2 linked regions of the Homo sapiens genome follow. The protein of the gene in region 1 interacts with the protein of each later gene in a pairwise test. Each region holds a gene or a part of one and is shown in the gene's direction. Other genes may lie near its edges.

The links.
Region 2: the proteins of MKRN3 (region 1) and MEOX1 interact in binary tests that used the Homo sapiens proteins (3 or more experiments, as listed by UniProt).

The regions. Positions count from the first base shown.
Region 1 is NC_000015.10:23,561,834-23,568,569, forward strand, and holds MKRN3 (E3 ubiquitin-protein ligase makorin-3), read left to right. Parts: upstream 1-3,840; 5' UTR 3,841-3,949; coding exon 3,950-5,473; 3' UTR 5,474-6,211; downstream 6,212-6,736. UniProt on the Homo sapiens protein: E3 ubiquitin ligase catalyzing the covalent attachment of ubiquitin moieties onto substrate proteins.
Region 2 is NC_000017.11:43,658,898-43,666,206, reverse strand, and holds the start of MEOX1 (homeobox protein MOX-1), read left to right. Parts: upstream 1-4,284; 5' UTR 4,285-4,672; coding exon 4,673-5,141; intron 5,142-7,309. UniProt on the Homo sapiens protein: Mesodermal transcription factor that plays a key role in somitogenesis and is specifically required for sclerotome development. Required for maintenance of the sclerotome polarity and formation of the cranio-cervical joints.

The DNA.
Region 1 (6,736 bases):
TCAGGCATCGTTCCAATCACTTTATAAGAATTAATGAATTATTATAAATTAATTAATACAGCAAACCTGTGAACTAGTCGGTGTAATTCTTGCTGTTATTATTCCCGTTGTCAGATGGGATAAAAGAAGGTAACTAATTTGTGACAGGGGAAAGTCTCAGATAGTGACCAGTGGATTCAGGATTTAAACCCACAATGCCCGATTCTGGACACTCGCGTTTAATTTCTGCGGCCCTTGCAGCTGCCGGCGCAGGCGCTGCACCCAGCGCTGCTCCGCGCGCCCAGCCCCGCTGGGTCCTGGACCCCGCCGGCAGCCGGCAGTGCCTAAAGGTTAGATCTGAAGGATAGGAGAGTGCTGAGAAGGATAATGCTTTTAGGCAATTAATTGTGTGTTCTTTAAATACGGACATGTTAACCACACGGGGCTAGGCAGCGCATGCCTGAGCTGTTTGGAGTAAAAAACTGCAGGACTTTGCAGCTTCTCTCCATCCTGCAGTTCACTTCTGAACTTGCTCCCTCCTCTTAGGATATTCTTAGACTGCCCGGACTTCACCTCAGCTCTGCCATCGCCCAGCCTTGCACTCATTCCATTCGGACCCCCAAATGCTGACCGGCCAGGGGATCCCATGCTACCCTGCAGACTGGTGTGTGCACAAGGAAACCAGGTCCCAGCCTCTGAGGCTGTCAGTGTTTTGTTAGAAAAGAAGGCACAGCTGAGCCAAATAACTAGACAAATGACTAAATGTCTACTTTCTGAGAACTGTAAAAACAATATTGATGCTCAAAAAATATACATATGTATATATCATGGCAGGAATATAGACAATGGCAGTCAGAGGAAATGATCTCTGAAGACATTTGGATAGGATGGGAACTAGTTTATTTTTCTCAAGATGCACTGCCCAGTTATTTCCAGTTATTCAATTTTTTATGGTATTTAAAATCATGGGATACAATATTGGCTTATAACAGTTTATATGAAATATTGTCACGACAAAACTAAAAGATAAAGTCACTATCAGACTATAAGACATGAACACCAGTGGCAGCCACACAGGTGGGCATTTGGAAGCAAACACTGCCTGGCACCAGCTGCATAGCCTTGGGCAGGTGAGGAAACATATGCTTCTCAGTTCCCTTGTGTTAGGAGATGAGATGGTCAAATATTGTATAGAACTTCACTCCAATGCAGTAACTACTAGCCTCATGTGGCTATTTAAATTTATAATTTAAAAAATGGACATTCATTTCCTCCGTCACTCTAGCCTCATTTCAAGTGCCCAAGAACCCCATGGGGCTAGCTTTCATACTGTACAGCATGCATATATATAAATTCTTCACAGAAAGTTCCTCTGGACAGTGCTGGTGCATCAAGAGAGGGTCAAATATGATTTAGATACAGTGCTGGGAAAATATCACAATTAAGCAAATAATAGATGCAGTGCTAGGAAAATATCACAATTAAGCCAGTAATAATTTTATATTCAGGATTCTTATGTTTGTGAATTTGTAGAGAGCTTGGCGTAGAAGCCTGAGAGCTGTGCTGCAAGTCTTTTTCTTGTAAAAATCACTGGGGCTGACAAACAAATCCTGATAAAGAGAAAGTTTGTTTCAGAAAGTTCAAGTGAGGCAGACTTTGGGACAGCTTGCATGCAAAATATAAAACTTGGTAACTATGAAAAGGAGAAAGATAAATCCAACATTTCCTACATTCACGATGAATAATCAGCACCATTTTCAAATAATTATCAAATTAGGAAAAGACTACCTTTTAAAAACATTGAGCCTTCTACTGACCGACTATAAAGACTATATATAAAGTATCCCACAATTTATTTAGGTCTTCTGAAGCTAAAATGTTTTTAATTTTATTGTATAACCTTAATTAGTTTAATTCCTAGGTTAGCTAACTTTTAATGTTGTTATGAATGTTATTAATTTTAAATGTTTACTTCAAATGTTATTGATGATAGAGAAATAAAAATGATTTTCATATATTGGACTCCTGTCCAGTGTCCTTGCTAAATGTACCTATTAAATCTAATAGCTTATCTGTAAATTATTCTCAATTTTCTGTTGCATTCCATCAATAATTTCTTTCCAGTTATAACATCTTTTATTTCTTTGCTATTACACTAGCTAGGACTTGCAATAATAAATACAGATTTTTTTTGCCTTTAGATTTATTTCAGAGAGAAAGTTTTAGAGACCTTTATTTAGATAATTATCTAAATTACAGATGTAATTTAACAGATCCATATTCACATGTATTTCTGCTCCTGTCATTTTTACTAATAGATGTTTCCACCAATATGACTATTTCATGTAACTTTTCAAGTTTTATCTCCTAACTTTGTTCCTGATATTCTCTAATGATTTTTAATGTCTGTTATTAATGTAGTGATAACATATTTGAAATTACTGATCTTGGGTATTAGAGCCTTCTTCATTTTTCCTTGATAAATTTCACCAGAAATTATCTGGCTTCAATAAGCAGTTTAAGGGATTTTACTTAATTTATTTCCCTTATTTAATATTTGTTTTTCTTCATTGCTTTTCTTGCCCTTATTATTTGCTTCATTCTGCTTTCATTGCTTTTACCTACTTAATTATAATTTAATTTGTTGACTTGGGTGATTATAAATATTCAGATATGTTTCCACTTTACAGATTTAGGCAACAAAATTTCCTCAAAGAAACTTATAGAAAAAAAATCCAATAATATATAAAATGATATATCATGACAGAAGGGCTTCTTATTAGAAACAAATTGGTTAGTTAAATATTTGAAACTCATAGCTGCAAATAATCACATTAAGAGAATAAAGGGAAAAACAAAATTGTCTCAAAAAATGTATAAAACTACATAACAGAATTCAGTATGCAGTCATGATACGTACTCTCAGCAAAGTAGGAATACAAAAAAATGATTAATCTACTACATTTATCTGCAAAAATGACAAAACGCTCATACATGGAAATTAAAGACCATTCCTTTGTGGATAATATGGCACAGGATATGTTATGAAAGGCTGTCCTGCCACAACACAGCACAGATGGGGTTGAAAGAAAGGAAGGGAAACAAAGGGCTGCCATGAATTAAACCAGTAGAGAAAATAAAAGCCTGGGTCATGCAGGGGACAGTGTCTTATTAGGCCAGCATCAGGACTGGTTGAAGTCTGGCGCTTCTAACACAGTGGGAAAATGAGCATAGTAATCACAATAAAGAAAGACATCTGAAAGGTGCTAACTTAGCCTCGGATCAGAAGTGCTCTCTGCTAATGCCTTGCTGGTGAAAAGCGTATCCAGTGTAAGCCCTCAGAAATCCCAGAAAACAAAGACCAAAAGAAACGGCGCCTTGTCAACCGAACGAATTGAAAAAAGCTTCCTGCCGCGATCGGGCATTAAAAGAAAAAAACCACAGACATAAGATGGAGTGAATAAAAAAAGAATTTATATAATTCATGGATGAAATGTTTCAGAATCTATAGGATTATATTTTTTTTAAGGCAGACAGATACGAAAATACAACGAAGCGTGCATGACCGAAACCAGAAGAGATTAAAGTAAAACCTCATTCTCCTGAGGAAATCGTGTGAGAAGGGACTTAGGGACTGCCGGAACACAGCGAAGCAGAGGCAGAAGGCAGACAAAAGGGGCTGGGTTGGTCCCCGCCTGTGTGAACGAAAAAATATGTCAGATTGGAAAATTGCGGTAAAAACCAGGCAGAGCACGTACGTTGCCCCCACAGGAAGTGTCCGCCATGCTGCCTGTGCCCGGAAGTAGGTAGGAACACACAGTCAGAGGGACCCAAAAGCAGGGGGGAAGGAAAAAGAGATGCACACTTCCCCCAGAGAAGCCTCCGAGCGCGGCCGCCATTCCGGGCCTCAAGCCCATAAAGAAAAAATACCGGAGAGGTTCTGGCACCATTTCGGGGTGCCAAAGCAGCCATGGAAGAGCCTGCAGCTCCCTCAGAAGCCCACGAGGCAGCCGGGGCCCAGGCAGGTGCTGAGGCAGCAAGGGAGGGTGTGTCTGGGCCGGACCTTCCCGTCTGTGAGCCCTCCGGGGAATCTGCTGCTCCAGATTCAGCCCTGCCACATGCGGCAAGGGGCTGGGCCCCCTTCCCTGTAGCTCCAGTCCCTGCCCACCTCCGCAGAGGAGGCCTGAGGCCTGCCCCAGCCTCAGGAGGAGGAGCCTGGCCCAGTCCGTTGCCAAGCCGAAGCAGCGGCATTTGGACAAAGCAGATCATCTGCAGGTATTATATACATGGGCAGTGCAAGGAGGGGGAGAACTGTCGCTATTCGCACGACCTTTCTGGTCGGAAGATGGCCACTGAGGGTGGCGTTTCGCCGCCTGGGGCCTCTGCAGGTGGAGGCCCTAGCACGGCTGCGCACATCGAGCCCCCGACTCAGGAAGTGGCGGAAGCCCCCCCGGCTGCATCCTCCCTTTCCTTGCCTGTGATTGGCTCGGCTGCTGAAAGGGGTTTCTTTGAAGCCGAGAGAGACAATGCAGACCGTGGAGCTGCTGGAGGAGCAGGTGTAGAAAGCTGGGCGGATGCCATTGAGTTTGTTCCAGGGCAGCCCTACCGGGGCCGCTGGGTTGCATCTGCCCCCGAGGCTCCTCTACAGAGCTCAGAGACTGAGAGGAAGCAGATGGCTGTGGGCAGTGGGTTGCGGTTTTGCTATTATGCTTCCAGGGGAGTTTGCTTTCGTGGGGAGAGCTGTATGTACCTCCATGGAGACATATGCGACATGTGTGGGCTGCAGACCTTGCACCCCATGGATGCTGCCCAGAGGGAAGAACATATGAGGGCCTGCATTGAAGCACACGAGAAAGATATGGAACTCTCGTTTGCTGTGCAGCGTGGTATGGACAAGGTGTGTGGCATCTGCATGGAGGTTGTCTATGAGAAGGCCAACCCCAATGACCGCCGCTTTGGCATTCTTTCCAATTGCAACCATTCCTTCTGTATTAGGTGTATCCGCAGGTGGAGAAGTGCCAGACAGTTTGAGAACAGGATCGTCAAGTCTTGCCCACAGTGCAGGGTCACCTCTGAATTGGTCATTCCCAGTGAGTTCTGGGTGGAGGAGGAGGAAGAGAAGCAGAAACTTATTCAGCAATACAAGGAGGCAATGAGCAACAAGGCCTGCAGGTATTTTGCGGAAGGCAGGGGTAACTGCCCATTTGGAGACACATGCTTTTACAAGCATGAATACCCTGAGGGCTGGGGAGATGAGCCTCCTGGGCCAGGTGGTGGGTCATTCAGCGCATACTGGCATCAACTTGTGGAGCCTGTGCGAATGGGAGAGGGCAACATGCTCTATAAAAGCATTAAGAAGGAGCTTGTCGTGCTTCGGCTGGCCAGTCTGTTGTTTAAGCGGTTTCTTTCACTGAGAGATGAGTTACCCTTCTCTGAGGACCAGTGGGACTTGCTTCATTATGAGCTGGAAGAATATTTCAATTTGATTCTGTAGCATCGTGCTGTGGCATGTGGTCTAGTCTGCTGAGGTTCTGTCGTCTGCTATTGCCTGTTTTCCCTGTGTTGACACTCTTACTGCTTTCAGGGGCTGTTGAGGCAGTGCTTCTGTTTTCTTGTCTATTCTGCATATCTTTCCCCCTAGGATTATGGTGATTATCTGTGTTAAAAAATAAGTCCTTAAAGTTACTGTTTTGGTGAAATTAATATTAATGTCAGCTTATGGCTTTTTTTTGTCATCTCTGTTGTCAACAGGATTAACTCAGTTCTAGTGTAGTGTTTACTGAATTTCCACACTTATTTTGAAGACCCTCAAGAGTAAATGTGGCAGAGTGAAAGGAGAAGTTTTAATTGAACTAGTAGCTTTGTGCTATAATAGCCTTAACAAATGGACCCTTGCAGGGCTTTGCAGCTGCTCATCTGTTTGTTTACAGTTTGTTCTTTCCCTCCTTCCCCTTCAAGTGCACTTGTTAAACTGTGATGAACTTGTGATTTTGTGTTTTACTTGACCAAAACCAAGTGTATATGTTTACATGTTTTTATCCTGTTTAGCTTGACATGAAATAATTTATATTTGGAAATATATATTTAAGAATTATATATATAAAAATATATATGTATAAGAGTTATGTATTTGAAAAAAATATATAAAAGAATATACATCACAATATAATATTTATGTTTATGTAATAAAGTAAATACAGAGCTGAAAGCTGAAGGTCAAAGCCTAACAGGATTGGCTGTTGTGTGGATGTGAGTTGTGTGAATAATCTTTCTGTCCCTCGCACAGAAGCCAGTAATTAGCATCTAATGAAAAGGACTGTTCAAGTGGGTCTGGCCAAATGTGACAGATGCAGATCTTAGAGGACTTACAAAGCACTATATTGGTAATTCTTACAATGGCATTAATAGCTTACTCTATAAATACAGAAATGGTTTTCCTATGCAGTTTAGCCACCTTCTCATTAATTCTTTGTAACAGCAAATCCTAGGCTCAGAGGCACAGTGCTTTGTATTTGATATACAAAGTCTCTAGACTTTCCCAACAAGGGGCTTTTGACAAAAGAGTTCAACATAAAAGTAACAAGATTATAAAAGGGAAAATAGAACAAAAATATTAAAACCAATGAGAATAAAAGAATGGAAAGATAAAATAATAAAATATAGAAAGCACTAAAAACTAAGTGTAAGACTAATATAGAAAATCTACATACAACTTAATTAGATTAAATGAAAGCAGTTTAAAGACTGAAAGTCAAAG
Region 2 (7,309 bases), on another chromosome or scaffold:
CTATTCCTCACATGCATCACCCTTTATAGTCAGCCAGCTCTGTTCTCAGATGCAGTTCATTTATCCTCCTAACCGCCAGGTGAGGCCGGAACTGTCAACTCCATTTTGCCAGTGAGAAAAATGAAGCTCAGAGAAGGGTGTGATTTGCCTGAGACCACACAGCCGGTAACAGGCAAGGTCACACCTTGAACCCGTGTCTTCTGCCTCCAGGTCCAGGGCCTTGCCCTGACACCCTGCCTCTCCAAGCACAAGGGGGTGGGGTGGCCACAAACAGAAGCAGCCCTGTCCTGCCAAGTACACGCCTGCCTGCCACGCACAATGGGAGACATTCCGCAAGTTCCACGTGATGGCTCAGGTGTGGCCAGGCTGAAAGCCCTCCTGGGCCCCCCCACGCCCCTGGGGGACCTCCTCGTGACTCACACTTTTCCTCTTCCTCCCCTTATTCTCCCCAACAATCAGAAACCGGGGTCCCCTCCCTTCCTGAAAACAGAGCTCTCCTCATGAGGCCACAGGGCTTTTTCGACACACAGCTCCTTCCATCCATCTCTGTCTCTGGCCCTGTGGGGCCTTGACAGGGAAACGCTGACTTTGAGGAGGTTAAAGGTGCTGGTGCCCGGCCTTCATCTAACAAATGGGTTGCCGTGAGGGGAGGAACTGTTGTTGTTTTTTCCTGGCCTCAGAAGAGGGGCCTGTCAGGAAGATGTAGGGGCCAGCAGCCCCCGGCCGCGCCCCGCAAGGTGGCTGACAGACGCCAGCAGCTGCCGGGGGCTCCGGGGTGCCAGAGGCCTGTGTTCTCAGGGCAAAGCACCCCACCGCGCCCCCTCCCCATGGCCCTCCTGACCTCCCCACCCACCCCACCATGACCCAGGGCCCACCCCGTCCAGGGGCAAAGGGCCAGGCGCTGGGCCTCCCTGCCATGAGGTCCCTGGGCCAGATGCAGAGGTGGAGCAGGAATCCGGTTACAGCCTGCGGCCAGCCCAGGGGAAGGTTTTCCTAGGGAAGCTGACAAGCCAGATCTTCCTCCCAGCCTCCCACGGATTCCTTCCAGAACCCCCACAGCACAGCGTGCCCCCCACAAAGGACCTCACAAGGCTGTTTCTGTAGAATTTCCTCAGAACTCCCCATTCCCAGGTTCACCCTTTGGGATCATCGAGGTTAACCAGAAATAGATGTGCTAGGAAGGGAGCCACATTTGTCCATTACTTACTCTGCCTTTTGCATAAAGGATTTCTTTCTTTATTTCTTTTTCTTTTTCTTTTTTTTTTTTTTTGAGACAGTGTCTCACTCTGTCGCCCAGGCCGGAGTGCAGTTGTACAATCTTGGCTTACCGCAACCTCTCTGCTTCCCAGGCTCAAGCGATTCTCCTGCCCTCAGCCTCCCGAGTAGCTGGGATTACAGGCATGTGCCACCACACCCAGCTAATTTTTGTATTTCTTTTTTTTTTTTTTTTTGAGATGGAGTCTCGCTCTGTCACCCAGGCTGGAGTGCAGTGACGTGATCTCGGTGCACTGCAAGCTCTGCTTCCCGGGTTCACACCATTCTCCTGCTTCAGCCTCCCAAGTAGCTGGGACTACAGGCGCCCGCCACCACGCCCGCCTTTTTTTTTTTTTTTTTGTATTTCTAGTAGAGACGGGGTTTCACTGTGTTAGCCAGGATGGTCTCGATCTCCTGACCGCATGATCCACCCGCCTCGGCCTCCCAAAGTGGTGGGATTACAGGCGTGAGCCACCGCGCCCGGCCTAATTTTTGTATTTCTATTAGAGACGGGGTTTTACCATGTTGGCCGGGCTGGTCTTGAACTCCTGGCCTCAAATGATCTGCCTGCCTCAGCCTTCCAAAGTGCTGGGATTATAGGTCTGAGCCACCGTGCCTGGCCTACATAAAGGATTTCATTGAAGATTTGCAAATGTCTGTGGGCTGGGCTGCCTCAATTTGAATCCTGGGTCCGCCGCTTCCCTGCTGTGTGGCCTTGTGCAGGTTACACAGTCTATCTGTGCATCAGAGTCTTCTGCTGAAAAACGGAGCTGATAAAAAAAAAAGAGAGAGAGAGAAACGGAGCTGATGAGAATGACTGTTGCCTCAGAAGGCTTTTGTGGGAATCCGTGGGGGTAAAAATGTGTAAGGTGCAAAGTGCCTTACACAGATCCCACTCTGACTGTCATCTCAGATGAGGAAACAGAAGTTCAGAGAGATGGCCAGGCATGGTGGCTCATGCCTGTAATCCCAGCACTTTGGGAGGCCGAGGCGGGCGGATCACGAGGTCAGGAGATTGAGACCATCCTGGCTAACACGGTGAAACCCCGTCTCTACTAAAAAATACAAAAAATTAGCCGGGCGTGGTGGCGGGTGCTTGTAGTCCCAGCTACTCGGGAGGCTGAGGCAAGAGAATGGCGTGAGCCCGGGAGGCGGAGCTTGCAGTGAGCTGAGATCATGCCACTGCACTCCAGCCTGGGCGACAGAACGAGACTCCATCTCAAAAAGAAAAAAAAAAAAAAGAAGTTCAGAGAGATAAGGTGACTTGTTCCAGGGCACACAGCCAGGAAGTGGCAGACCTGGGGCTTGAACTCAGACCCGTCTAACCTCAAACCCCATGCCTCCTCCTCTGCATCTGGCCTGCTCCAAACTGAACAGCAGGACACCTGAGGCCAAGTGCTGATTCCACCATTTCTTAGCTGTGTGAGTCTGGGCAGCCCAGTCATCCATCTGAGCCTCGGTTTTGTCATCTGCAAAATGGAGACATAATTCTTACTTACCCATCCTAGGAAAGTTGTGAGGCTCAGAGAATTGTGTGTGCCACAGCTAAGCCCTGGGCAAAGCAGAAAGATGAGTCTGGTTGACAGCTATGACCCCATCCACTCTACTGGTCTACAACACTCTGACCGCTTGTTCCAGAAGAGGGCACATCTTTTCATATGTACACCCCTCCCCATCTTTTACAGCTGCTCCTGCTCCCAGGATGTGTATCTGACTGGAGTTTCTGGATTAAAGGCCAGTCGTGGCTTCATTCCACATCCCTGGGTGCCCTTCGGCTCCTCCTAGGAGCATCTCCTGCACCCACCCCCCAGGGCCCCACCTCCAGGCTGCAGAGCTAAGACCTAGGGGCCCCTCCTCAGGGAACCCTCGCCGTCTTTGGAAGCAGCCAGCAGAGACGCTGCTGTTAAGGTCCATGCCTGTTTCTGCCCCCATCCTGCTGCTCTGGGCCATGGGAATAACCAGTGGGGAAGGAGTTCTGGCCCCTGGGTGTTAGGAATGTCGTCCTCCAAGAAATTGCATTAACCCTCTGAGAGACCAGCAGGGCGCAGCCATGAGGAAGACTGGGCATCAAGATGGCACTTGGGCTGGCTGCCCTGTGATGTGCACCAGCCCGGAGACCCACGTGCCTGCTTGCCAAAGAGGCTCCTTTGGGGAATGAGGAGCCCCTGATTCCTATTTCCCTACCCCAAATTCCTCGGAAGCCTCCGCCTCTGGGGGATGAGAAAGGGAAGCAGGTGGGTGGAGGTGAAGGGGGCAGGGAGCAGGTGGGAGGAGACCCGAAGAAACTTCAAGGACCTTATTTAAGAGCCTTGCCATTGCTGTGAAGAAAAATGACTTGAAACCTCTCTAGAGAAGAGTGTGGCTAATTGGCATGTATGTTGGAGGTTAAAGAGCGGAAGGAAGAATCTGATTGTTTTTTTAAGTTACTGAGAAAGTGAGAATGTCACTCTGGGCAGAGAGAAATTCTTTTTTTCTAGAGTGTGCCTTTCTTTGTACTGCAGACCACAGTGGGCCGCTGAGACTTGCAAAAAAGATTTCTTTTAATCCACCTTCCTTTTTCGCAGGCAGCAGTAGAAGGGCCTTTAAATCAAATGCAATCACCAAGCTTGTCTCTTGCTCTTATTCCTCACTTCACTCCCTGGAATTTGGCATTTGATGGATTCTGGATCTGACTTAAGGCTTTTTCTAAATCCAAGACTTGGGGAATTTTGTTAACAGTGCAATAAAAATAACTTCATAGTGTTACAGGAGGCACATTAAAGACGGTGTGTGTGTATGTGTGTGTGTGCTGCTCTCTTTCCTTAAAAAAAAAATACAGACAATGTTTCTTTAAAAGTCTCCATCTGCAAATCCCATTAGATGTGCATATAAGGTTTCTGATGATTAATAGTTGCCTGCTAGGGTTTTGGTTGGAGGGGATCTTGTGTGTGTGGGTTAACCCCTCCCTCTCCTCTCTCACATTTCACTTCAGAAATTTGTCACTCTCTCCCCACCGCAGGATTTAAAAGTGTGTCCCAGCAGCCCTGGTCCAGCCCTCTGCAGGCATTTGCTCTGGGCTCCAGGACGAACTCCTCGTCAGCTGGTGCGTCTGGGTTGGGACAGTGAAAATGTTTAGTGTCATTGGCGACAAATACACATACAGGGGATCCCAGTAGGTAGGCTGGTGCATTGGAGGGGCAGGAGCAAGCCCGACATAGGTGTGTGCACACACATAGGAGTAGCTGGCCACATGTGTGTGTACTTTAAGGAGAGACTTTAGTTTTGGGTTTTTTTTTTTTTTTGGTTCCTGGGGTAAATTTTCTGTTGAACATTTTTCCCTCCTATTTAGTTTTTTTTCTTTTGCATTTTTAAAAATTTGAACATAAAAAGTATAAAGAATCAAATCTTTGAAAGGACCGAGGCGTGCAGCGGACAGCAGATGGATCCCGCGGCCAGCAGCTGCATGAGGAGCCTCCAGCCCCCAGCCCCTGTCTGGGGCTGCCTTCGAAACCCCCACTCGGAAGGCAATGGGGCCTCAGGGCTACCCCACTACCCGCCCACCCCGTTCTCCTTCCACCAGAAACCAGACTTCCTGGCGACAGCGACGGCAGCGTACCCTGACTTCTCAGCCTCCTGCCTGGCAGCCACCCCACACAGCCTGCCCCAGGAGGAGCACATCTTCACTGAGCAGCACCCCGCTTTCCCACAGTCCCCCAACTGGCACTTCCCTGTCTCAGACGCCCGGCGCAGGCCCAACTCAGGCCCGGCAGGGGGTTCCAAGGAAATGGGGACCAGCAGCCTGGGCCTGGTGGACACCACAGGAGGCCCAGGCGATGACTACGGGGTGCTTGGGAGCACTGCCAATGAGACAGAGAAGAAATCATCCAGGCGGAGAAAGGAGAGTTCAGGTAGGTGGCTCAGGAGCAGCTGATCATTCCTTTACTGTGTGACCCTGGGGAAGTTACTCACCCTCTCTGTGCCTAGGTGCTCTGAGCATGAATTTCTGTCTAGTCCATCCAAATGCAGGAGACTGGACCAGTTACCTTTGGGGTTTCTTCCACTGAGAGTTCTAGGATTCTCTGGTGATGGGGACCATGTCTGTGTCCCAGCACTCCTGGGCCCCAGAAAGGGTGTCCAGCAAGAGAATGAAACAGGATCAGCCAGGATTTGGAGGACACGTGAAATGGATCCTCTGGGTGCAGACTGGCGAGGGCTGGTGAGGGGCTTTCCTGAATCAGGCTGCCATTGAGTCATCCTCCTCCCCACCATGCTTTGGCCAGCCCCAAGTGGTCCTAGAGCCACAGGGCTCGCTTACCAGGGAAGTTCAGCTGAGGTTAAGGCTCTGAGAGCTAAGACTGAAGCTGGGACCCTGGGTGGCCACCCAAAGCCAAGACCCTATGTGTCCAGGAGCCTAGAGGCAGAGAAGCAGGCCTGCGGCTGGGATGGGAGAATCAAGGGGTGAGGGGGAGATGGAGGGCTGAGGTTTGGGGCAGACTGCCCACCAGATATCACCCTGCGGAGCTGGGCCATGTCCAGGCCAAGGGGACAGACAACTCAGCATGCTGAGATCTGGCTGACCCCCCAGGAAGGCAGCCCCGCAAGGAGCTGCAAGGGATGGGCAGCCTCTGAGAGAGTCAGGGAGGCAGGCAGCCAAGGGAGTCCGTGCTGGAGTCCCAGAGGCTGGAGGATGAGATTGGCCTATTTGTTAAGATTCCAGCTAAAGCCCTTCTCTTCCCCAGGGTGGGGACCTGCTGCTTCCTCACCTCCCCACCAGGCCCTCCCTGGTTGCTCACTATACCTGTCCACCTTTTGTCTGGTTCCTTGTCCCGGCCTCGTTCAGAACAAAGCAGTGACCAAGCCTCCTGCCCGTGCTGCCCTGTTTTCCTCCTGACAGCCGCCCTCAGGGGCACGCCTGTCTGTCGGAGCCTGTAGAGGACCTTCCCATGGGGCTAACCAGGGCAGGACAGAAAAGAAGGACACCAACCAACAGGTGGGAATGCTTTGTGCTTTGCTTTATAAGCACAGCTTTCCCGAGTTTCTGCTCTTAGCCAAGCCCAGGAATGCTCTGAGATGAATAAAGGGGTCTCACCCAAGAAAGCTCAAACTGAGAGGAAGAAGAGGCCTGCAGAGGTGTGTCAGCAGTGGGATGTGCCCTGATGGGGAGGCTTAAGGTGCCATGGGATACTGACGTCAGCTCTTTTGAGTCCCACGGGTTTGGGAGATGGGGACAGCAGGTTTTATTAGTACCTTGATTCTCTCAATCTGCAAAATGAAAGACTGAAAGTTGGTGAGAACACAGAAAGAATGGGGTCAAACTAGAGTGAGCAGCTCATCTCCATTTGCCCAGGACTTTTCCAGTTTTAGCACTGAAAATCCTGTCGTAGGAAACCCCACAGTCCCAGGCAAACAGAAGAATTGGTCACCCTAGAAGTGAGCTCAAACCCCAGGCTTCAGGCCCCCGGTATCACCCCCTTCAGTAGATTTCAAATGCAGTCCTCATTTTGAAATGATGTTTGGTCTGTCTGCTTGAAGAAGCCCCTTCTTCAATGGGAGATAGGAACTCTAGCAGCCCTCATGGCTGCTAAATAGAAGGGCCCTTTAAACCGCCAGCCAGTTAGATCCCCATCCCGAAAATTAACTCATCCTGCCCCTGGTAGGAAATGTGCTAAGGATGAGAAGCAACTCTCAGCGACTTGGCTCTGAACCTGGTTGAAGAGCTTTCCCCTTGGTGGCGGCACGCAGCACTGTGGCTCCTTCCTCTCTGCCACTTTCCAGAGAACTGACAGCCAAGGGCATTGGGAAGGGATAGCAAAGCCAAGAGCCTGCTGGGCTCAGGCAGAATCTTCCAGCATTCCGAGTCTCAGCAAAACCCAAATGCACCAGCTCTCTTTTTGGCGAGTGGCCGATGGCCCTGCAATGCAGAGAGACCATTCACACTAAGCAGCTGGCCACCCAGGAGTACAGGGACACCCTCGGCTGAACGGCCTGCATGCTTCAGGGTCAGACTTTGGTGGAGGGAGGTTCCCATCCGCAGGGGCCCTGGGCTTCCCTAAGGGTCCCCTCAGGAGCACCAGCA